Homo sapiens: one gene and its partners. The protein of the gene in region 2 interacts with the protein of the main gene of each other region in a biochemical or structural test. Each region holds a gene or a part of one and is shown on either strand. Other genes may lie near its edges.

Evidence for each region.
Region 1: the proteins of A2M (region 2) and SLC6A4 form a complex in vitro, tested with the Homo sapiens proteins (one study listed by BioGRID).
Region 3: the proteins of A2M (region 2) and PAEP form a complex in vitro, tested with the Homo sapiens proteins (one study listed by BioGRID).
Region 4: the proteins of A2M (region 2) and MMP2 form a complex in vitro, tested with the Homo sapiens proteins (one study listed by BioGRID).

The regions. Positions count from the first base shown.
Region 1 is NC_000017.11:30,232,686-30,239,725, forward strand, and holds the start of SLC6A4 (sodium-dependent serotonin transporter), read right to left. Parts: upstream 3,013-7,040; 5' UTR 2,928-3,012; intron 1-2,927.
Region 2 is NC_000012.12:9,070,918-9,077,969, forward strand, and holds part of A2M (alpha-2-macroglobulin isoform a precursor), read right to left. Parts: intron 6,941-7,052; coding exon 6,784-6,940; intron 6,504-6,783; coding exon 6,429-6,503; intron 6,020-6,428; coding exon 5,839-6,019; intron 3,867-5,838; coding exon 3,643-3,866; intron 1,955-3,642; coding exon 1,736-1,954; intron 1,570-1,735; coding exon 1,442-1,569; intron 1-1,441. UniProt on the Homo sapiens protein: Is able to inhibit all four classes of proteinases by a unique 'trapping' mechanism. This protein has a peptide stretch, called the 'bait region' which contains specific cleavage sites for different proteinases.
Region 3 is NC_000009.12:135,564,720-135,567,471, reverse strand, and holds the end of PAEP (glycodelin isoform 1 precursor), read right to left. Parts: intron 2,135-2,752; coding exon of another isoform or gene 2,063-2,134; coding exon 1,958-2,062; intron 1,688-1,957; coding exon 1,671-1,687; exon of another isoform or gene 1,642-1,670; intron 939-1,641; exon of another isoform or gene 920-938; 3' UTR 517-919; downstream 1-516. UniProt on the Homo sapiens protein: Glycoprotein that regulates critical steps during fertilization and also has immunomonomodulatory effects. Four glycoforms, namely glycodelin-S, -A, -F and -C have been identified in reproductive tissues that differ in glycosylation and biological activity.
Region 4 is NC_000016.10:55,496,198-55,503,197, reverse strand, and holds part of MMP2 (72 kDa type IV collagenase isoform 1 preproprotein), read right to left. Parts: intron 6,273-7,000; coding exon 6,136-6,272; intron 4,910-6,135; coding exon 4,750-4,909; intron 420-4,749; coding exon 310-419; intron 1-309.

The DNA of each region.
Region 1 (7,040 bases), on a different chromosome or scaffold from region 2:
TTATCGCTACTCATTTTGTCACCTCATTAGACACAGGGCTGGGAAAACACTTGCTCCCATTTAAAAGCGCGTTGTTGACATTCAGTAAATGAGCATTCGTCTTCCCAGTCACCCAGAGCAAACAAAAGTCAGGCTGAAGGGAGCAGCCCCTGCAGAGACGTTTCTCACAGGGCAACATTTCTGAATGTGAACCAAAGTCAGCACCGTGAGCTCCACCTGGAAGTACGGGGCTGTGCAGGCCAATGGTGGAGCCCGTGCCCACCTGGAAGAGCAATTTGCCTTTCTGCTCAGGGAAGATCATTGATGCCAGGTTTCTGTGAAAGGCTAGTTTCATCTGTTTTCCCCTGGGTCCCTCCTAGAAAGATGGGAGTTTTCTTCCCTTGGAATGTCATTTTGCCTGGTTAAGCCCAGAAACAGATTCCCTGTAAGAGCAAGGGAGTCTGCCTCACTTGTCCCAAGTGTGGAGAAACAGGCGCTTTTATGAGATGTTTCGCTCCACACCCACGTATGTTCCATGGAACACCGCAAACATCAGGGAGTGGAGGTGGCTGTTAATAGCCCAGGGACTGGACAGGAAAATCGGTGCAGCCCAAATTTGTGCTGCCTGGGGGCTATTTCTACCGCACCACACCCTGGGCATCTTGCAAAGGGCATTTGGGCAGCTGGGGAGTCGGGTTATTGGGCCCCTGTTGGTTGGCTGTGGTTAAGGTGCAGGGGTTAACTTACTTACATGTGTCAGAGTGTGCAAAGCCTCTGCCTTAGAGTGAAACCTGAGGGGATCCCCAGGAGACCCTGATTTGAAGGTGATATCTGGGTAGAGAGTACCGGCCCTCCGGCATTTTTGCACCATCATTTCAACTCATGTTTTCTTAAAGTGGAGAGGTTAGGGTCATGGTTGCAGAGTGAGTTGGAGGGGACTCGGACATCGTGTTAGGCAGTCCTCTCCACAGCCCCTCATTTAGAGCTGAGGACCACGAGGAGCTGATATGTTACTGGGAATAACTAAGGTCTGAGTTACCTTCTCAACAACAACCAAAAGTGACTGTATAATTTTTGCTCTGGCTGTCCAGACATCTTTAGAAAAAGTCAAGTCATGACCATATCCTGTTGATTCATGAAGCCAAATTAAAATTAAGCTTCTTCAGGAAGCCCTGCCTTCTATATTCTCTCCAATTATACCATTCATTCCACAACTAGGAAGGAGAAGGAGCTGCCACGTATTGGCTTAATGTCTGGAGTTACCTGTGTTTCTGTTTGGCAGCGGACATCCAGGGTGTTTGGGAAGCAAGCACCTGCTGTAAGAAACAGACTGATCCATGCTCCTAACCCCCCTCCAGCCAAGCATCCCCATTCCTCAGGCACCTCACCTATTTGCGAAACTCTTCAACATGCCTCTCCAAGTTTCATCAAAATGCTCAGACGACTCTAAACATCCCCCGAGAGGAATTTCTGAGGTCTTTCAGATTCCATTAAAACATCAACATTATTCCCCCATCCCACTCCTAGTATATATATATTTCTTAAACAAGGAGATTGAAAAAAATGGGTTTGAATATCTGTGCTGGTGGTTATATCTCTGAGAGGTCTTAGATGGATCACCAGAGTGTTGAGGGGACTTTTGATTAATTGTGAAGCACTTTCAATCTGTTCTTTAGTGGGAAAAAGAAAGAAAGAAAGAAAAGAGGAAAAACCCATGCCCCAAGTGGCTTGCTCAATTTGCACAAACCTCATAAGAACCTGCTTCTCACTCATCCATATTGGAACGGTCACTGCCACCCCAGAGTGCGTGGCAGGAAAACCCGAACCCTGGGGCCTCAGTGGCTTCACACAGAAGCAAGTAATGGGACAAAGAGTCAAAGCTGTGTGCTCCCTACGCTCCTAAAAACCCAACACTGACGCTGCCCACAGTTCTCTGTTTCATTAAACACAAGTCCCAATGTCACCTTCTTAGACATTTTTCCTATGTAACTGAAGGCAAAACACATTAAATATTTGCTCTCGTCTTCCTATGATGAGAGTTAGCTAGCAGGCTCATAAATAATCCATTGACCAGGTTCACTTTTCTGGACAAAACTGATGGTAAAAATACATACACAAAGTCTTTGTAATGTCTGATTCAGAAATTCTACCCCTCTCAAATTCTTCAGAGTCCCAAATGGAAAAGGAACAATTCAATATGCAAAAGCCCCAGTTCAGAAGAAAATCTGCTCCTTAGCCCAAGACCCAAATCCACTCTTGAGCTCCAGAGAGCTTTTTTTCAAGAACAAGTTTGAATGTACACAATTTTCAAGCAAATGATGGTTATATCCTTCAACCACGTAGCACAGTCGTTGGAGTTGGAGTTTCACATACATTCTGAATGGCCTGTGAGGTGTCTGAGAGCGCCTCAGCTCTGACAGTGAAACCACCCAAGCGCACGGAGACTCGGCCCACTTAGGCGCCACTCAGAGATTTCTCTAGCTGTCTGGGCATTTGTGTCAACCAGAACTCTCCCTTTGCATAAAGCCACCTGCACGCGATGACAGCAAAGTAAAGATCAAACATAAACCATGGGTTGAAACGAAAGCAAGCAACTCTTCCCAAAGCGCAGGACAGCACTTTGCTCAAGACCCTCTTTAAGGGGTCTTTCACGGGTCCTCAAGAGGTTGCAAAGCCCCTGCAACAATAGACAAAGGAGCCCCCTACGCCCGCCCACTTCGAGCACTCCACGTTCCTCGTCTCCCACTCTGGCCGGTCAGCTTCAGCTCTGGCTCTTGCTGAGCGTGGAGGGCGCAGGGGCAGGATCCGGCGCCCACCGCTGGGGCGCATGCACCTCCTCGCCTCCTCGCAGGGCGGTGGGGCGCAGCGGTTCTATCCCCCTCCCCGAGGCGGGGAAGAAGGTCTGGAAAGAAACGTGGGTTCGAGGCGGAGAGGAAAAGCGGACCCACCTGCCAGGCTGCGCGGGGAGGCTGGTCCCGGGCTGGGCAGGCGGGCTGGCCTCGCGCCCTCGAGGCACCCGGCGGCGCTGGCTGTGCGGAGGGGCGCCGGCGCGGCCGTATTTGTACCCGCGGGCCCTCACATGGTCTGATCTCTAGATAGCCGCCGCCAAAGAGCTCTTGAAGAATTTTTGCGTCACTTTGAGGCGAATAAACTTAATGCTTCCCCGCGGCCGCGGCTCCGCGCTCCCGCTGGATGGGGTTGCGCTCGCCAGGGAGGGGCCGCGCTACGGGGCGGGGTGCGCGCCCGACCCCAGAGCCAGGAGGGGAGGGACCCCCGACACACACACACGCTCGCAGGGAGGAGCGGAGCGCGGAGCAGCCGGCAGGGCAGGGCCGAGCGAGGAATCCTGACTTTCCTGCTCTTTAACTTTGCGGGAGGGGGGAGGCTGCACAAAGGAGCAGGTGTGCGCCTCCCCTGCCGCCCCGCGCCCACAGGACGGCACACAGGGGTCTGCTCGTGCCGCTTTCTCTTGACCTCGGACACCTCCCCATCGTCCCCATCCCGAAAGCTGCTCTCTCTTTCTTCCTGGGACCTAGCAGTACTCGATACCCATGCGTTTATCTGACTGACCGGCTGGGATGTGAGCTCAGCTTAGAGGCCCTTGTCTAATTCCTCTCCGTCCCCAGAGTCTCACAATAAAGACTTCCACAATGAAGGAATGAAGAACTGGTTCTCATTTTGTTAACCAGCTACAGTTCAAAGCTGCGTCAAAAAGGAGCACAGTGCTTTGGGAGGCTGAGGCGGGAGGATTGCTTGAGCCCAGGAATTCAAGACCAGCCTGGGCAACACAGCAAGACCCCATCTCTAGAAAAAAAATTTTTTTAATTAGCCGGGCGTGGTTGCTCGCGCTTGTGTTCCCAGCTACTCAGGAGGCTGAGGTGGAGGATCAGCTGAGCCCGGGAGGTCGAGGCTGCAGTGAGCCGTGATCGAACCACTGCACTCCAACCTGGTGACAATTTGAATTATCTGAAAGGGCCCAGCAGGAGCCTATTGTTTTGAACCATGTGCATGTAGTTTTGATAATTTTTTCAAAAAGTTTAAAAATTGATTTAATGTTAATATCCTTTTTGCTAAAATTATTTAAAACTTTAAAAAGGGCACATGCAGTACTTGCTTTGGGTTGTCCCTGAGGCGGAAAGGAGAGGGCTCTACCTCTCCCCAAGAGGAGGCCAGGAACGATAGGAAGTAGAAGACCGAAAGGAAATAGCAGTGACAAGTTTGCAGCTCCAGAGAAGCCACCGCCCCTTGTACTTGGAGGAACTGACCCCTGAAAACTGTGCGGCCGGTTGGGCTGAGCGTCTAGAGGGACTGAGCTGGACAACCACGGGCAAGCGAGGGCAGCTCCCAGCGGGTGGAGTCCGCGCGGGATTCTGGTGCCACCTAGACGCCAGGGCGGGGACCGCAAGGTGGGCGGGAGGCTTGGAGGCCGGGATGCGGGGGAATACTGGTAGGGTGCAAGGAGAATGCTGGAGGGGTGCAGGGGGGATGCCGGGGGTGCATGGGGGGATGCTGGGGGGTGCAGGGGGGATACTGCGAGGGGTGCAGGGGGGATAATGGGGGTTGCAGGGGAGATCCTGGGAGAGGTGCAGGGGGATGCTGGAAGGGCTGCAGGGGGGATGCTGGGGGTGCAGGGGAGATGCTGGGGGGGCTGCAGGGGGGATGCTGGGGGTGCAGGGGGGATGCCGCGAGGGGTGAAGGGGGGGATAATGGGGGATGCAGGAGCGATCCTAGGAGGGGTACAGGGAGTTGCTGGGAGGTTGCAGGGGGGATGCTGGGAGGGCTGCAGTAGGGACATTAGGGGTTAGGTGCTGGCATTCAGAGCGGCAACGCCAGGCGGGAGAATCCCCAACAAGCTTGGGAATTTCACCCCCAGGGGCAGCGCCTGCACGGGAGTGGGGCCTCCTCCTTTCAGATGAACACAGTTGTCTGCTGCCTCCCACGTTCCACTTCTTAAATGAGCATGTTTGTGCTGTATAGGCAAGGGCAACAGAAAACGCAAAGTGTCCTTTCCAGGAGGGCCAAAGGAGGGGGGCAGGGACGCTGGGAAGAGGCGCCAAAGCGGAGGACGGCTGCAGGGGTGACTTCAGCGCTTGGCTACCAAGACCAGGTCTGTCCAGTGTGACTTCTTAGCACTTCTTAATTGTGCAGTCTCGCCACTTCTGATCTTCCTTCTAGACTCTTTCTAGCCGAAGATGCATTCCTGCCCAGCGCGCAGCCCCTCCCTATGGCACTGCCCTGTTCTGTGCAGGTGCTGCCTAGAGAGTGGGCACCCTGTGGACCTGGGTCAAATCCCGGCCCCCACCCTGTACTGTGGTGTGGGCTTGACCGAGCTCCTTAACCTCAAGCTGTCTGGCCTTTGTGTCTCTGTTTGTGAAGTAGGGAGGATGATCTCAGTGGGCACTGCCCAGCTGTGGGTGGGGAAGGGGCCAACTCCTTGCAGGCCCTGTGCGCTGGGCCCTTCCTCCAAGGGGGCCTTCGACCCCTCCTCTCTCTGGCCGGGTGGTCCCATCTCCTCCCCTCTTGCTCCCCAGCTGCGGGCAACCACCATTAGCAAATGACATTAGAATTACACAGACGGCCCCGCCCTGGTTCCCCCTGCCTCCATGGCAGAGTCCGCACACAACTGGCCCAGACCCTCCCCCTCTCTCTAAACAGGTGTTTCTCTTCCTCCTGCCCTGGGTACCATCCCACAGAGAGGCCAGGCCCACCTGCAGGTCCTCACCTCCACAGAGCCAGCCTCTCTTGAGCAGCTCCGCTCTGCCTTCTGATACTCATCGCCACAAGCACCTTGTCCTTCCTCGGCCTCCCACTCCCTCCCTCTGAGCCCGCGCCCTGCTCCCCTGCCTGGCGGTCAGTCGACTGCCCCGCCCCGCCTCCAATTCAGGTGGACAGGCTTCAGCGTCCACTACCGGGGAAGAGGCAGCCCCGCACCCGTGCCTCCCCCCGCCTCTGGGCCGCTCCTTCCCAGCCTGAGCCTGACCGCATGAGGAAGGCACAACCTCTCTGCTCCAGAGACCTGGAGAGGCCGGGAGGCCCTGTCCTGGGCATGGAAGGCAGGAGGGAGCCCTGAGTGCGGCAGGAGGGAAGCAGCGCTTCAGGGGAAGGATCTAATGGCTGTGACCTGCGTGGGCTGCAGGTAAGAGTAGGGGGGAAGGGGGTTGTCGTGGTGGTTGGGACAGACGGGTTCCTTAGAATGTGAATGCAGGCGTCAGCTGGTGGCCGCAGGGAAGAGATGCAAGCCAGAAACCCAGCAGGCACCTGCGAAGCTTGGTGCTGGTGGTGTATAGGGACAGCCAGGGAGATGTCAAGGGCGACAGGTCCTGGGCAGCTGGGAAGAGGCTGCCTGGCAATCACCGCACAGCAATAGTTTTTCTTTGTTCACCTGCTTGAGCCCAGAAATAGTGGGGCTTAGAAGCTGCTCTGGGGCTCAGAATAAATACAAGCTTTCACTTTAAGAGGAAAGGGGCACATAAATATTTACACCTGCCCCAAACACCACCAAGAAAACCCACTTCCTGGAAGTCTCAAAGGCCAGCAGTGAGTCCCCTGTGGAGCCAGCCAGGACCGAACCATGCGAATCCCAGGCTCTCCCTCCGGAAGCCCTTGGTGCCATCTGTCTGTCCTGTCTCTGCCCTGTTTATACAATAACGAAAGAAGAAGGCCCACCCCTCCTTGTGGGCTTTTTCTCAGGCCCAGGAAAATGCTGACAATATTCAGTCCTTAGAGTGTCATCTTGCTCCATTCCCACCAGCACCTCCCCGACACCCCTGGTTTTTCCTGGGACCCCCAGTTTTTCCTGGCATGGTTCTGGTGACTCTACATTCATGTTCAGTGGCACCTCCAAGGCAGGACTTGCTGCCACTGTGAACCCTGGGCTCATCTCTACGGAGGTCTCCATGGGAGCCCCTAGCAGGCCCACCCCATCCAGATGAAGCAAGCTAAAGGGAACTCCAGACAAGGTCCTTTTGGGAGTGCGGGGGGTTTGGGGGAGGAACAGATCAGGTTCAGCCCTAAGAAAGGCCAGAAACATTTGGAAGTAGGTTCATTTTGTCATTGGTCAT
Region 2 (7,052 bases):
TCAAGTGATTCTCCTGCCTCAGCCTCCCGAGTAGCTGGGATTACAGGCATGCACCACCACGTCCGACTAATTTTGTATTTTTAGTACAGACGGGGTTTCTCCATGTTGGTCAGGCTGGTCTTGAACTCCCGACCTAAGGTAATCTGCCCGCCTTGGCCTCCCAAAGTGCTGAGATTACAGGCGTGAGCCACCACGCCCGGCTGAGGATCTGCATTTTAAGAAAGCTCTACAAGTGATGCACAGGCTGTTTGTGACCTCTAATCTATGCCAGTTATTTTATTTATTTGTTTACTTTTATTTTCTTTCAGCTGACAAAATGATGTATATTATGAATAATAAATTTCAGTCTACATTATTTACAAAAACAACAATAATTTATAATGTTTACTTAAACACTGGCTTTCAACAAAACACTTAGAAACACCTAGCGTCTTGTCCCCGAGAGTTTGCATCCGAAATTTGGACTGCTTAATTTATTTTTTGGCATATATATACACCAAATTAAATGAAAAAAATATATATATATATACTTAACTTTTAGGTTCAGGCGTACACATGCAGGTTTGTTATATAGGTAAACTCGTGTCATGGGGGTTTGGTGTACAGATTACTTTATCACTTGGGTACTAAATTTTGCACTGAATTGTTGTTTTTTTCTGATCTTCTCCCTCCTCCCATCCTTAACCCTCAAGTAGGCTCTGGTGTCTGTTGTTCTCCTTTTTGTGTCCATATGTTCTCATCATTTAGCTCCCACTTACAAATGAGAACATGCAGTGTTTGGTTTTCCATTCCTGTGCTAGTTTGCCAAGGATAATGACCTCCATCTCCATCCATGTTCCTGCAAAGGTCATGATCTCATTCTTTTTGATGTGTGCCAGTTATTTGTTACATGTATTTTGTCCTAACTTTTTTCCTGAATAGTATCTCCAACCAAGTAATAATATGTTTGTGGAGAGAGAGTTTTTTATCAGATCTGCAGCTATTTAAATATTGATGCATATAAGTGTATCTTCCCCCCAAATTAATTATATCATATATAACCTGAGATTTATTATTGCCAGTAGGAATTCTAACTAAGGAGTCACTACTTCCTTCTATTCAAACTTTTCAATAATTCTTCATCTCTATCTTCAATAAAGCAAGAATAATATAGGATTTCATTACATAACAAGGAATTCAGGTCAGAGGCAATGGGTAATATTTACTTAGTTGTTATTGAGGGAAATTATTACCCTTTAAACAATGAGGTTGCACAATAGTAGATCCTGGATGGACAATGTAAACCCCATCATTGAGAAATTATATCAACTTAAGAGAATACATTGCATTTTTTGTGAATAGTGCAAATATCTACTGTTGCACTGCTTTACTTAAAGAGGAGTTCCCGAAAGAAGACTGGTGGTTATTCTTAGGATTAGGTGATAGAGTCAGAAGGTCTTACCTGACACTTAGGGAGATTTGGAAGCTGGTGTGGGCTTTGGGTTCATCACAAGTTTGAGGCAGAGTCTGCACTCCTAAAGCAAAGGGGAACTCTTCCTTTTCTGGGAGAATATTGTATTTCAAGGATGTCTATAGAACATCAAAGACAAAATCAGTTTTTTGCCCTTTCCCAGAATTCCTGTCCACGTCCCTAACCCTTTCTCTGATCTGTCCCATTGTTTTCTGAGTTAGGACTTCTCAGAGAGAACAGCTGCTGTCCTCATCTGTCCTGTCCTCACCTGCCCAAGAGTCTCACCTGGAGGTAGACACATCCTTCTCCTGTCACTTTCATGCTGTATTCCCCAGGCAGCTCTGGCAATGAGACCTGCTGCAGTAACAGGCGGTTGTTGTTGTCCACTTGGAATTTGCTGGAAAATGTCCCTGAAGACTGGATAGTCACCTGTGCAGCCTTCCCAGTCCTGGTAAATGTGGCTGCTCCATATTTGGACAGAGCATGGAGAGCCACCACTGTGTCCTGTTAGAGACAGATGAGTGAGAGAACCCATTGGGCATTATAAGGCTTTGAGGGCTGAGATATTTTTCAAAGACCCATGTGAGGGACTTTGATTTCCTACTTCCCTCACTACTTAAATATAGGAGCTGTAATTTCAAGATTGATTATAATCTTTAGATAGTTGAAGAACCATAACATTCACATATCTACCTTGGACTGTATGCCCTACATGTTTATTTTATTTATCAGAAAATTGATCCTTTTCTCTCTGTAAGTATATGTGGGACATGGAATGTGGAAAACATGTGAATGGCAATCAGTTATTGGCATCAGCTATTTGCTAACATGTCTTTCTTGACAACTATGCTCATATCTGCCACCACTCAAGCAAAGTTCAGTCTGGCTCTCTCCCATATTAAACTTTGCTCAGTTGCTGAGGTCAGTGTCCTGGAGAGAACCCAAGGTTCTTTGCAGCCATGAGCAGAGTCATGCTTCAGTTTCTCCAAAAGAAATAAAAGATGAGTATTATAATTATCTTCTGGATTTAATGACATTTTTATTTGGCTTTCCCTTTTTATTGGATGATTTCCTGTTCCCAGTGAATGTCTGCTGGTATGTATCCTCAACAACATTAAACCTGCTTGGCCTCCTTCAAATAATATGTTTCTAATAAATGAATGATAACCTTTAACAAAATTACTTAGTTTTTTTCATTCATATGATAAAAGATTAATACAATGGAAATAGGATGGAATGCCATTTTGTCACATTTTTTCCGTTTTAGGGTATATAAGCAAACATCCGAATTCTCTGAAGATAAAACTTTCTGCTGTGTACATATCAATGAATTGTTCAGATACATGGTTATATAGCTAGATTTAGGAGGTTGGATGAATAAAGACAGTTCTTTATGCTCCTGATGAATAAATGTTTGTGTATTAAGAGGTGAATAGGGGGCTGGACGCAGTGGCTCACACCTATAATCCTAGCACTTTGTGAGGCCAAGGCGGATGGATTGCCTGAGCTCAGGACTTCGAGATCAGCCTGGGCAACATGGCAAAACCTCGTCTCTACTAAAAATACAAAAATTAGCCAGGCATGATTGCACATGACTGTAATCCTAGATACTTGGGAGGCTGAGGCACTAGAATCGCTTGAACCTGGGAGATGGAGGTTGCAGTGAGCCGAGATTGCACCACTGCATTCCAGCCTAGGTGACAGAGCAAGACTCTGTCTTAAAAAAAAAAAAAAAAAAAAGGTGAATAGGGGAAGCACAAAATGTGTAGTTTTGAGAAAAGCCTATTAAAGGGGACCTAAGAATGGAGAGATTTGCGAGGAGAGGTTGTTGGATTTTGAGTAGAGTTCCTTTGAACAGTTTGAAAGAGACCCTAGAGCTTTCAGGAGAATGGCAGGAGACATCTCCTTCATTCTGCTGGTGCTCCACTGCTGCTTGAGGAAGGCAGTGTTGTTATGGGAAATAGGAGATGGATAATAACACAGCGATGGGGTGCCGGGATTCTGAGCATTTCCTTTTGGCCCTCTTTGACTTTGATTTGCTTTTATTTCCATTATCCTTGGATACTGAAAACTTTTCCTCATTTCAAGTTACTGTCATCTGTATTTTTTTCTTCTTGGATGTGTTTGTTTCTTTTTCATTCAAATCTTTTGCTACCTGAAGGTGAAATAAAAGGTTTTGGCAAATCACCAACCTGGGTGGAGGAGAAACCGCCCTGGGCATTCTGCTGCTTCGTGATCCACTTCACGATGTTGGTTGCAGAGGTCAGGTCCTCCGAGGTTGGGGCTGGCTGGGCCGTGAGATAAGCGAGGAGCACATAGGATGTCATCTCCACCTCAGCAGAGGGAGCCTGGGGTTCGTAAAAATGCCCCACTGGTGCCTTGGGTTTCTGAGGGCGCTCCCAATGGACAGAGTTGTCTTAAAGATGAGAAAAAGATATTTATAAGTGCCTACATATTTATATTTAATTCAAGGTGAAAGTACCCAAGCCAGTGCTGAAATGAGAATTGCATGCCCATTATAATCCCCTGTACTGTATGTAGATGCTTTTCCCTTCATGTAAATCTGAATTTGGTGTGTTTTAGCCCAGCTAAGGCAGATATTGATGCTGGAGTCAGAAGCCTATGCCTATCTATGTTTTCAAATCGTTGCTATAGTCGGGTTGGTGGGAGAAAGAAATGGCACAGCAGTTGTCTCATTGAGTCTGGCTATTTCCTATTTATGATGTTATATTAGACTATAGCTGGAGTTTGTTACATTTCCTATAAAGTGTGTCTTTATCAGTTTCTTGTGAGGATCACAGATCACATGAAATAGTAGAGTTTCTACTCATTAAATTGAAAAAAAAAATACAGTAATCCTTGAAATACCAAAGGCTGACATGGATGTGAAACAATGGGAACCAATATACACTGCTGTGGGAAGCCAACTGCTCTTTGGCAATATTCAGCAATGGGGAAGATGTGCTTAGCCCACTAATCAGTCATTATGCTTCTCAAAGCATAATTTGGAGAAACACAGATGCACAAGAAAACAGGCACATGAGTATTCATTGCAGCATTTTTTTTAATAGCAAAACATAAAAAAAATCCATGAGGAGAAACTCGATGTGTAAATTATGACTAATTTATAGACTGTAATATATTATGCAGCAGTGAAAATTAATGAGCTGACTCTGCACATACTTGTATAGGGGTCTTCATCAACATAGTGTTGAACTTAGAAAATAAAAAGCAGACAAACAAAAAACTAAGCTGCTGAAATATTCAAAAATGTTTCTCTTGTTTCTTGAATAAGAGAGAAATAAAAATCTTGTTTCTCTCAAGATGAAACACATGTGAAGATTCTAAATATTAGTTAGGGATACATATGCAGCAAAAATATAAGGAAATCCATGGAATTGTAACGACAAATTCAGGATAATGATTGCCTCTGGAGGTGGTAGTGATACACAAGGGATTTATTTTTCCCATGTCGGTAATTTTCTATTTCTTAATCTATGAGAGAGTTGTACAGTGTTTTCTAGTTATAGCTTATGCCCTTTTGTATATCTATTATAAAATATTTCTCAATACATTTTAAGAAGAATTAATGGCTGTCAAAGGAAAAAGGTAGACTGTTTTAATGGACATCTTGTGATTTGCATTTTATTTTCTATTTCTTCAACCGCTCATATAGACCATGGTATATGTAGAAGTACTGTGTGAATATGAGTAGATTGGTCAACATTATTGGTCTTATGAAATGGGCTTAAAATACCAGAATTCATTCAAGGAGTTACTTCCATGATTATTTTCTTATGTTTAAGGTTATATAATGTACCAGGTAAGGGTTGGGCATATATTGAGAACTGATATGTTAATTGTAATAACTAGTACTTTTATAGGATTTGCTATGTGACATGTACTCTACTAAGTGTTTTACGTGTACCAATTCATTTATTACAACAGCTCTGTGAGGTAAATACTATTATTATCCCCATTTTACTGATGAAGGAACTGAAACACAAGGAAGTTAATGACTTTCCCAAGCTCACATAGGTAGCACATTTTGGAGCTAGTCTCCAGAGAATGCTCTTCTTACCAGCATACTATAGAGATGGTCCCTGACTTACAATGGTCCCACTTAAGATTTTTTAGACTTTACAATGAGTTTGTCAGGATATAACCCCATCGTAATTGAGAAGCATCTGCACGGCCTCTTGTCTTCTGATTTCTGATTTGATTAAGAAATCCTAGATTTTATAAGATGCAATATGGACAAAATATATATGATATATAGAAAAGAAGAGAGGAGACAGGGATCACAGGAGGTAGGAGTGAGGGATTTTTGCCATGCAGTTCTTGATACAGAGGATGGGCCAGGAGAAGGATCTCAGGTGTGCTCTCACCTTTCTTCACAGCTTCCTCATTAAGTGACTTGAGTACTTCCTTCCTCTTGTCCTGGTTACCTGCCAGGGCAAAAGCATAGGCCAGCAGTGCTTTGGTATATACATGGCTGCCATGGTCCCCTTCTTGTGCTGTCTTCCAGGCTGACTCCAGGCAAAACAGGGCATTGCGGACAACAGGGTGCTGTGAAGGCAGAACAAGAAGGGAACTAAGCTATGTAAACAGGCATATTAGCATTCCCAGGCAAATACACGGATCACAGCACAGAAGTTTTTCAAACGCATTTTTCCAACGATTCCTCATTCTTATCAATAGATATAATATTATTTTTATCTGTTATTCTCACATTCAAAAGATACATCTTTAAGATTCTTTTTTGAGTGGTGGTGGTAAATAGCCTAGGGGAATTACTGGGAAAATTTAAACCTTTCTTAATGGGCTGACCAAATTCTCTGTAGATCTGGGAAGCACTGGCATTGCATAGAAAGAAAGCTGATGCTTTGCTTTTAATAGGATAGTATTTCAGACAGCAGGTCAGCAGTTTCATTGCATCCAGAACTCTCCTTCAGCAGAGGAATGGGGTGGTACCTACAGTGACTGTGAGAGGAATCTCCAGAAGGGCGATGGTGATATAGGCGGAGAGGGTCACTTCATCTTCTACTCCTCCCTGTGAATACGAGAGAGAGATCTGAATAATTCAACTTCTGAGAATGCTATTGATTAGTTCTTTCTATTCTGCTGTGTCATGGAATTCATCCTTACCCATATCCATCCCTATAGGGCAAAGTATCACAATCAACTTTTGTTCTATCCCCTCTTTTTTGGTGCCATCCAGGTTTTATTTTCCTCTGAGGCTTTCCCTTAGAATTTTTCACATTATCACTTCCTATCCTCATCCTTGCAGATATCATAATGGACAAATCAAAACTAGCTCCAGAATGATTCACCTTTATGGCATTGTTGAGCAGTGACCCAGAGCTCCTGAAACAGCCATTGTCCTTCTGCCTCTGGGAGAGCCATATGAGGGCTTGGGTAATGTGTGCTTCATCGATGAAGATGTAGGCTCGAGCTTGGGCAAAAGTCTTCAGAACAAAGGCTGTGAGCCTGACCAGGGAGGAAGCAATCATGATGTTTATGTTGTCAAAATGGTTTTATAACCACTTCACAGCAACAGGCTTCATATGATGTGAGTTAGCTAACAAAATTCTTGTGTACT
Region 3 (2,752 bases), on a different chromosome or scaffold from region 2:
TCTGACTGTGTCTGTCTGTCTGCCTTGGGAAGGGTCCTTACCTACTCTGTCTCCAGTCTTCTCTGATCTGTTTTGGATGCTTATATTTGCCTTGAAATCATCTCTTTTGGATTGTAAAAAATATATTCTGGAGTCAAATAGCATAATCCCTTATGACTCTTTTAATCTATTTTCTCTTAATCTGTGGTGATTGATACTTGCTGGAATTTTTTTTCCTGGGTGTTTCTGACAGGTGAGCTAAATCCTACCATGCCCACCCCTCCCCACCTGGGGGCACAGGTGCATGAATTTGATATGTTTCTCTGATTTTGTCATTTTTGCTTTTATCTTCCTTCATTCTATTTTCTTACTTTCCTCATTCTAACGCTTTTTTTTCTAACAAGAGCTCATTACAGATTCATTGATTTTAATTATTTCTTGCTAACCCATTTCAGTATTAAAGACTATGAGTTTTCCTCTGGGCTCATCAATTCTGATATGAGTGTCCTGGTTTTATTGTTCTAGACATTTCACAAGTTTGTGAAAGTGGACCCTTTTGTTTTGTAGATAAGAAACTTGAGGTATTTTCTCCACCAGAAGCTGCCCATGGGTCTGTAGGAGCTCCGGTTCTGCCAGGCGGTGGCCTGGGCCTGCCCCGACCCCAGGCCCTCGTCCCTGAATCCCACACCCAGCAGTGGCTGCGCATCCAGACAGGACATGCTCCAAGGGTTTATTAATAACCTCTGCCAGAGACTCTGCCCCCAGGGAGCAGCCTCCCCATGGCCGTGGTGCAGGTGTGCAGCAGGAAGGGGATGGCGACACAGATGACCACGTCATCGTCTTCTGAGCTGTGGTTATTCTTTGAAAGGGCAGGAGGAAGTCCCACTGCTCTGGAGGTGTGGAAGGGTGGGAGTCTGGTCTTCCTGGAGGCGGAGGTGAGCTGTTGGGTTTACAGGTCACTTAAGTAGAGGGAGGAAGAGCAGGGTGTTTCGGGGGAGCCCTGGAAGGATGTGGTGGGCTTGAGGACACCCCCTTAAGAATGTGGCACTGAAATCCCAGCACTTTGGGAGGCTAAAGCGGGGGGATCATGAGGTCAAGAGATTGAGACCATCGTGGCCAACATGGTGAAACCCCGTTTCTATTAAAAATACAAAAATTAGCTGGGCATGGTGGCACACGCCTGTGGTTCCAGCAACTCGGGGGGTTGAGGCAGGAGAATCGCTTGAACCCAGGAGGTCGAGGTTGCAGTGAGCTGAGATTGTGCCACTGCACTCCAGCCTGGTGACAGAGCGAGACTCCATCTTAAAAAAAGAAAAAAAAAAAAGAACGTGGGACCGAGACCTGCAGGTCCCCAGCTTCTCATGCCCTTCCATGTAACCATCCTCCTTCCTCCTCCTATAGCCCCCACCATTTCCAACCAACACCCCTAACCCCAAAAGAAAGCATGAGGTCTGACTATAGGGCACAAGCCCGTGACTAATACAATGGCTGCAAGACACAGGCTGGGCTCGTGAATGGGGACGTCAGCAGCCTGGCTTTCTGGAATCACAAGACCAGACCCCAGTTCATTCCTGTAGGGTCAGCCCTGAACTGGACACAGTAGGGTCTGTCCCAGGGGCCCAGAGAGGCAGCCGCAGACAGTGGGCGAGGCTGATACATTACCCAGGAGGCAGGACCAGGCAGGAGCTCACCTAGAAACGGCACGGCTCTGTGGGAGGAGATGGGACAGTGGAGGTGTCAGCGAGAGAAGAGACAGCTGGGGACACAGCAGCCCCAGGGCTAGAGAAGGGATGAAAGGATGGTGGGAGAGGGCAGGACCCCACCTCAGGGTGGCTCTGCACCCCAGAAGGCCAGGGGAGAACAGGGGAGGGGCCAAAAAGGAGTGACCTGAGTCCTGCAGAGCCAGCAGGGGGCTCGGGCTAAGAAAGAGGCAGCTTCTCCTCCAGCTGAGGCTGGGCGTGTCCTAGGCAGAGCTCACCTTCCATCTGTTTCAAGTCCAGCAAGTACCATAGGTGCCTGGGCAGGGGCCTGAAAGCCCTGATGAATCCCTGCATGATCTCATCGTCCTCCACCAGGACTCTGGCTGTGGAAGAGGCTGGGTCAGTCCTGGGCCCCTGGGGCTTCCATGAGAGCTGGGGAGCTCCAGAGGCCTTGCCTGAGGAGGGAGGGCAGAGAAGGAGGCCCCAGTGCTCCGAGGTCTGGCAGAGTTTGGTCTGGAGTAGGTCCCTAGGGCGGTCTCCGGGGCTCTGTCCACTGCACCTCCAGGTTCCCTGACCCCAGCTCCCACTCCTTGGCCCGGCCCCCTCTGCTCCGCTCTGGGCAGCGCTGGGGTCTGCACAGCTTAGGATGGTGTCTACAGCGTCACAGGAGAGCACAGTGCCTGGCTCTCCCAGTGCCCGGCTCTCACCAAGCATGGCTGAGGCTGATCAAGAAGACACCTGTGTGACCCCAGAGGAAACACTGTGCTCAGAAACATGGGGAAGGGCTGTGCCTATGTGGCTATTTTGGTATTCCTGGCCTTCGTTTGGTTGACAGCATCATAGGTTTCAGGGCGTTTTGACTGGACGCCCAGTGAGTATTAATCTATCCACCAAGCCCAGCCCCTTGACTGGCGACCGTCCCACTGGCCCTATATCAGCTCCTTGCTTTGTCAGAGGACTCGATGAACCGCTGGAGAAAAACTCAGCCTGGCCGGGCGTGGTGGCTCACGCCTGTAATCCCAGCCCTTTGGGAGGCCAAGGCGGGTGGATCACTTGATCCAGGAGTTGGAGAC
Region 4 (7,000 bases), on a different chromosome or scaffold from region 2:
GAATGAATCCACGGCACAGAGCCCATGTTCCTTCTCCCCTGGCCCAGGCCTTCCGCCCTCCCCTGCCCTGGCTCCAGGCCCTGCAGCTGTGAGAAGTCTTTCTGGGTCTTACTGCCTGGAGCCAGGCCAAGGAGCAGAGGTCAGGGATCTGGAAACCTTCCCAGCACTAGGATGAAGGAGTTGATTTGTTTTCCTGGGCGCCGCCTGCCTGCCTGCCCTGCACAATAAAGAAGTGTGTATTTGCAAGGAGCTGGGCCCTGGCTAGGGGCGGGGAGTCCTAGAAAGCGGAGACAGTCCTGGGTGGCTCACCGCCGCCCTGCAGGTCCACGACGGCATCCAGGTTATCGGGGATGGCATTCCAGGCATCTGCGATGAGCTTGGGGAAGCCAGGATCCATTTTCTTCTTCACCTCATTGTATCTGTAAAGAAACAGACACAGTGAACCAGCAGGGCCTCTCTAAAGGACACTTCCCCCCTGGCCTGGATGGGAGCACCCAGCTGATGGCTCCTGGATAGGCCTCGGAAACTGGACCTAGCCCTTCAGGGAAGCAGCCAGCTGCAGTGGAAGGAAGGGCATGGAATCAGACCTGAGTCTGAGCCTCAGATCTACCACTTTTAATTATATGACTTTGGATGACCCCATAAAAACAATCTCATGATTACTGCTAACATTTATAAAGCACTTACTACATGCCAAACAGTGTGTTAACCACTTTCCATACAGCTACAGTTTTACCAGCTGTAAAATGGGGTTGTGTCTAATTTAGTGTATTTAATTTAATGCATGCATTAAATAAAACAGCACATGCAGAGCCTCTATCCCCATGTCTCATAAATATTTAGTAGGTACTTAAGAAATGTTAGCTCCCTTACAAACAAATCCCTGCTGTAATCCGAGGAGTGCTAAACTAGAAGCCCAGGGATGGGAATCTGCCCCATCATTCTTTCACTTCATGGCTTGGAAAAATTGCTGCTTCTTCATCTGCCACAGGGAGATGACAGTCCCTGCCCTGGGAGATGACCATGGCTGGGGCAGTGAGGTTACAATGCAAGGTGGAAGGTACGTGTAAGTCCAAGGCCTGTTAGTCACAGGGTGGGCCACATGCCACCTCAGTTCCGGCGGCAGCAATCCTGGGCCCCGCCTTTAATTCAGGTAAATACTTTGGGCATCGGTTAGTATGTTCTTCTCCCTGGCTAGCAATCCTTCTGTCTTTTAAGATTTTTGGAGAACTTTTTAAATGCTGCTGTCATGTTGATTCCTTTGCCTCTCCACTTCATTATTCCATAAATATTTACTGAGCTCCCACTATGGGAGCTATGGATATCCTAGTAAACAAGTCTTGCCCAAGTGGAGCTGTTTCTAGATGAATCTGTGTTCGCATCCCATCCTGGTAGCAGCCACCTTTTGCTCCACAGTGCCTCCTAGGGGGCTCCCTTCCTTTCTGCAGCCAGCCTTGACCACCTCCACCCTGGACCCCAACAGCAGCTTTCCCTATATGCTCCCTTCTAGAGGAGACTTCTCCCTCAAAGGGACTTCTCCCTCAGCCATCACCCCGAAGAACTAACGCCTTCCTTAATCCCAGGTGCAGCATAAAACTCATTCTTACAAAACCTGGCATGCTTCCTCATGCCCTGGGTCACCAAAACCAAGTTCCCTAGCTCAAAATCCCAACACTCCCATCCAAGGCACCTCCACTGAGCCCTCAAACTACATTCCCTAGCGTTAGGATAGTTTGGAGATGTGTGTCCCACACTTGAACTGGCCCTCATTTCTTTCTCATTCTACCCACAGAAGGTGGGGATGGCAGAAGTCAAGCCCATTTTACAGATGAGGAAACTGAGTCTCAGATAAGAGAATTAGTTTGCTTCCAAGTTCTTTTCATCCAGAAAGAATACAAGCACTGTGGTGTCAGAAGATGTGGTACTTCTCTGCAGCTGTAGAAGTTGCCATGTATAGCAGGTGTTAAGAACACAGATATTTGTGTCCCAGCTTTTCCTTGAGCCACTTTAGCCTCAGTTTCCACACTTGGGAAAAGGAGCTAACAGTATCTACCTCAACTGAGAAATATAGGTGACCTGCATAGCCTCAGGCTGGGCTATGGTAGAGGCCCCATACTGAGAGCCATCATTATCTGATTCAAATGTGTTTACATAATTTTCCCTCATTCTACTATAAACTACATGAGGGCAGGGTGTGATGATTTTTTGACCCCCGTCTCTCCAGCAGCTAGCTAAGTGCCTGGCACACAGCAGATGTGGAACATATATTTGTGGCTTAGTGAAAGCTTCTACAAGCAGGGCCTGAGCTCTTCTTGGCATGCTGAAGACAGCTGCTCAGCCTCTGTCACTCTGGGGCTCTCTCTCCTTCTCCAGCAAAGATGCCTCTGGGGCCTCTGCAGACTCCACGGCAGGGCCAGTGTCACAAGCTCATTCACCACTTCTCTTGGAATAGAGATCTGTCTCCTTTGGAAGCCAGCCCAGAGCTTCTGATAGGCCCTTCAGCTCTGTCCCTTTTCAGGAAGTCTCAGGGTGGTTCCTCTGTAGAGCACGCTGTCTGTCCTGGCTCTGGCTTTGGGAGGTGGGCTTGTGTGGAAAAGGACTGGGAGGCAAATAACTCTGCCTGGAAATCCAGCAAGGCACTGCCACAACCTCCATGCCTGTGTGTGTGTGTGTGTGTGTGTGTGTGTGTGTGTGTGTGTGTGTATGCGCACATGCGCACACAATCATGTTCCTATATGCTAGGAACAGGTCTGTTTTTGCATGTTTACATAGATACAGTGCATGGAAAAGTGATTTAAAAAGTTCTTCCAACACCATAATTTGAAAACTTCAGGGCTTTAGGATTCTAAGATTCACGTTTCTGTGAGTCTGTGCGGCTCACCAGCCACAATTCTAAGACTTGGAGATTCAGGGCTCCTACAATGCTGAGATGCCATTCGCAGTACGCGTGTGTGTGTGTGCGTGTGCGTGCACACTGTCTGGGGCTAGTGTCTGGAGCTGGTGGGTGGAAAGCCTGCTCTGTGGTTTCCTGCCTGACTGTTTTCTTTCTTGAGGCTTGAGATATCAATCAGCTTAGGTTGCTAAGTGTCTTAGCAATATGTCTGGAATTCCACCCTGACATGGGCAGGCCTGGGATATAAAGAGTTTCTGAATGCAGGGCAGCTGGGGGGCAGAGTAGTGGGGAGGAGGGAAGGGGGAGAAGACAGAGGCCTTAGGAAGTAAGCGGGATTGTTTTGGGGATGGCAGACAAAGGCCTCAGGAAGTGCCCTCTAAAATTCTTGGGTAGGGCCCAGATGCAGTGGCAGCCATGGAAGGAATGTGGGGATACCAGGAGGGAGGGGATGGAAAGACACACCACAAGTCTTTGTGCCCCGACCACTCTTTCCTCACTAATCAAATGGACTGGCAGGTATAGTGGAGGGGGTACTCAGTTAGAATACAAGAGAAGTAGCTATAATCCTGGCTTTGTGCAAATACACATATCTCTATAGCTTGAACAAGTTATTTAATTTCTTTGGACCTCCGTTTCCTTTTCTAGAAAGTGTGAAGAATTACAGTCAAACTCCTGAGGTTTGGGCTACCTCTCACCAGCCACTCCTGGATATTAGGTTCCCTGGTCATGACTATAGCCCCTCAGAACTGGACCCTTTCCTGTAGATAACCTGGAGCACAGAACCATCTGCTTCCAAATTGTTCCCCTGCCAACCTGCACCCACAGCCACGGGCCTGCTGTGAGCATGACACAGGGCACCTGCTCCTTCCATGGGGTCTGATTTGGATGCTGGCTTCTATGGATGACTGGTGCACCCATCTCTAAGTCTTCTTCATATTTTGTCCACTGCCTTCATGTTCCCCCATCTCTTGGAACCCCCATTCCACCATCTCGGGTATAGAATAGTAGTGAAGAGTGAAGACTAACATGTTTTCCCAGGAGACAGAATGCCAGGGTTCAAATCCCAACCTGTCCCTACCTGGCTATGTGACTCCAAGCTGGTTACTTAACCTTTCTTTTTTCTTTTTTTTTTTTTTGAGTTGGAGTCTCACTCTGTTGCCCAGGCTGGAGTGCAGTGGCATGATCTCAGCTCACTGCAACTTCTGTCTTCCAGGTTTAAGTGATTCCCCTGCCTCAGTCTCCCTAGTAGCTGGGATTGCAGGCATGCACCACCATGTCCAGCTAATTTTTTTGCATTTTTAGTAGAGATGGGGTTTCACCATGTGGCCAGGCTGATCTGGAACTCCTGAGCTCAAGTGATCCACCCATCTTGGCCTCCCAAAGTGCTGGGATTACAGGCGTGAGCCACTGTGCCCAGCCACGGTTACCTAACCTTTCTGAACCCAGGTTTCCTCATCTGTAAAATGGGAGGAATAATAATTCCTATCCCATAGAACCCTTGGGACAGTCTCTGACACATAGTGTCAATAGGAGCAGTTATTATCTTTATTTTTATTACCCCCTTCTTCAGTGAGTCATTTCAAAATGTGAGGGTCCAGACCAGACATGGGCCAATCAAAAGAATTCTGCAAAGAGAAAGGATATTCCACCAGAATTATATCAGCAATGTGTACAAGAATGGTTCACCTTTGGCAACATCTCAGAGGTGCCAGAGACCAAAGAGGTTAGATACCAGAGAGAGGGCATCCAGAGCCCACCAACCTCTGAACTCAGCCCAGGAGGCTTGAAGCCTCAGGGCGGCTTCTCTGTCTCTCGCAGCCAACTGTGCTGCTGTCCTACCCACCGCCCTCCCTTACCTCCAGAATTTGTCTCCAGCAAAGATGTATGTCTTCTTGTTTTTGCTCCAGTTAAAGGCGGCATCCACTCGCTGGACATCAGGGGGCAGTCCCAGGCTGGTCAGTGGCTTGGGGTACCCTCGCTCCAGGGTGCTGGCTGAGTAGATCCAGTATTCATTCCCTGGGGTGGAAGCAAAGGGTGTGTTGGCTGGTGCTGACATGCCCTAGGCCAGCCTGTTCCTCCCATCATCTGTCTGTCCACGGGCCCCACTGCAGCCATTCCCAACAGAGTGCAACTTCCTGCTCACTCCTGGTTGCAGTGCCCAGAATCAGGGCTCACACAGAGGGCTTTAGAAGTCAATTACAGAAGGTGCCTGGTCAAGGACATGAGTTGGGGGATAAATCCAGCTCACACTCTGCTCACCAAGTCGTGCACTCTAAGGGCCTTGCTGTCATAAAGAGGCACCTTTTGCTAATTTGCAAAAAGGTGCCCTAGGAGCCAGCAGTTGTCCTCTCCGGGACCCATGATTACGGTGGATTGGGGGAGGTGGGAGCCAGGTGGTGGAGACAATAGTCTTGGCTGAGCCTTTATCTTCTCTAGGATCCCACCTCAGACCAGGACAGGGACCTCCTAAATCCTTCTTTACCCCTCATAAGAGCCCAGCTGTCTGTCTCCCTGAGTGGTTTGTGAGCATCGCGAAGGCAGAGCTTGTATCCCCAGGGTATGGCAAAGCCCAGCGCATGGAAATGCTCCAATAAATGTTAAATGAGTAAACCTTAGCCATACAGACCTCACCTTGATGATTTCTACCACTTCTAGGGGCTCCCTGTACTATTATTTACTTAACATTCTGCTTTCAGTGAATTCATTTTGAAATCTTTAAAAATAAATTTATTAAAAAATGTTTTTTGACTGTCAAAATATCAGTTACTGAATAATCCGTTTCTGTCCTGATTTGAAACTCCACACTATTATAACTAACTGCCTCTGTTAAAACCAATTTATGTCTAAAAGTAAAAATGAAAACAAATATTCTTTAAAACATTCGAACTAAAACTGTTACCTGCCAAAGACTGTATCACTACAAAGGCGTTAGGGACACACCAGCACTAAACTGAGACTTTTTTTCTTCTAGAAAAGAAATGAGACGGATTGAAAAGAATTAAGAAAATGAAATGTGTACACTGAGGGTTAATGCTATCTGATGTTGGGTGTCGGAACCAATCTCCCAGAGGAGCTGCGCACTTCAGGAAATAATGTTGAAAGAATGAATCCATAAAGGAAAGGGAGCACCCACGGGTGCATAGGAACTGTGGTTTGAGAGGGGGAGTGAGCCTGGGACACCCAGGAGCCCTGGTGCAGAGCCCTGTGGAGCTGAGGGCCAAGGAAGGGTGCTTCCCACACACCTGCAAAGAACACAGCCTTCTCCTCCTGTGGGGCCTCGTATACCGCATCAATCTTTTCCGGGAGCTCAGGCCAGAATGTGGCCACCAGCAGGGGCCCCATGGGCTTGTCACGTGGCGTCACAGTCCGCCAAATGAACCTGGCAGGAGGCAAGGGGGCACAGGAAACCACATCTTCAGTCACCCTGCAGCTCGAACCACACACACCCCCAAACCCACCCAGAAACATCCCAGAGATGATTCCATGATGGGAGTGGGAGGCAGGATCAAAGGAAGGTTGGAGAAGGACTGGAGAACGGGCAGAGTTCCTGTCTGCAATCTGCTGGAGCTGAGAAACATCCTCCTACCCTGTTCTCTCCCTCTACCTCCTCCAGGAAGCCTTCCCTGACTACCTCCATCCATATTGTGTTTTCCCTCTCTAAGCCTCTCAAAATCATCAACTCTGAGTGCCTGGAACAGTAGTGTCTGTTTGTCTTAACTCTCCTATTTGATTAGAGGCCAATTGGGGCAGGAGCTGATGACACTCAAGTATTTCCTGAATTAAAATGAAATGAATTTGTGTACTTTGTCAAGAGTAAGAGTTATCATTTATTGAGGGTCCTACTAAATGCCATGTGCTTTATTTATGTGCCTTGTAATTTAATCCCCACAATCTTTTAAGACAGCATGCACTCTGGATGGTCTACCTAGCATTAATTATCTATTTCCCCACCATCCTTCTTCACAAAACTCCACATTTATGATCCAGCCTTCACCTCCTCTGACCCTGTGTCCCCTACCCCCATTCTAGGGGTAGATACTGATTGGTATAAGCCACTGGTTCTCAAAGTGCAGTCTCCTGACCAGCAGCATCTGCGTCACCTGAGAA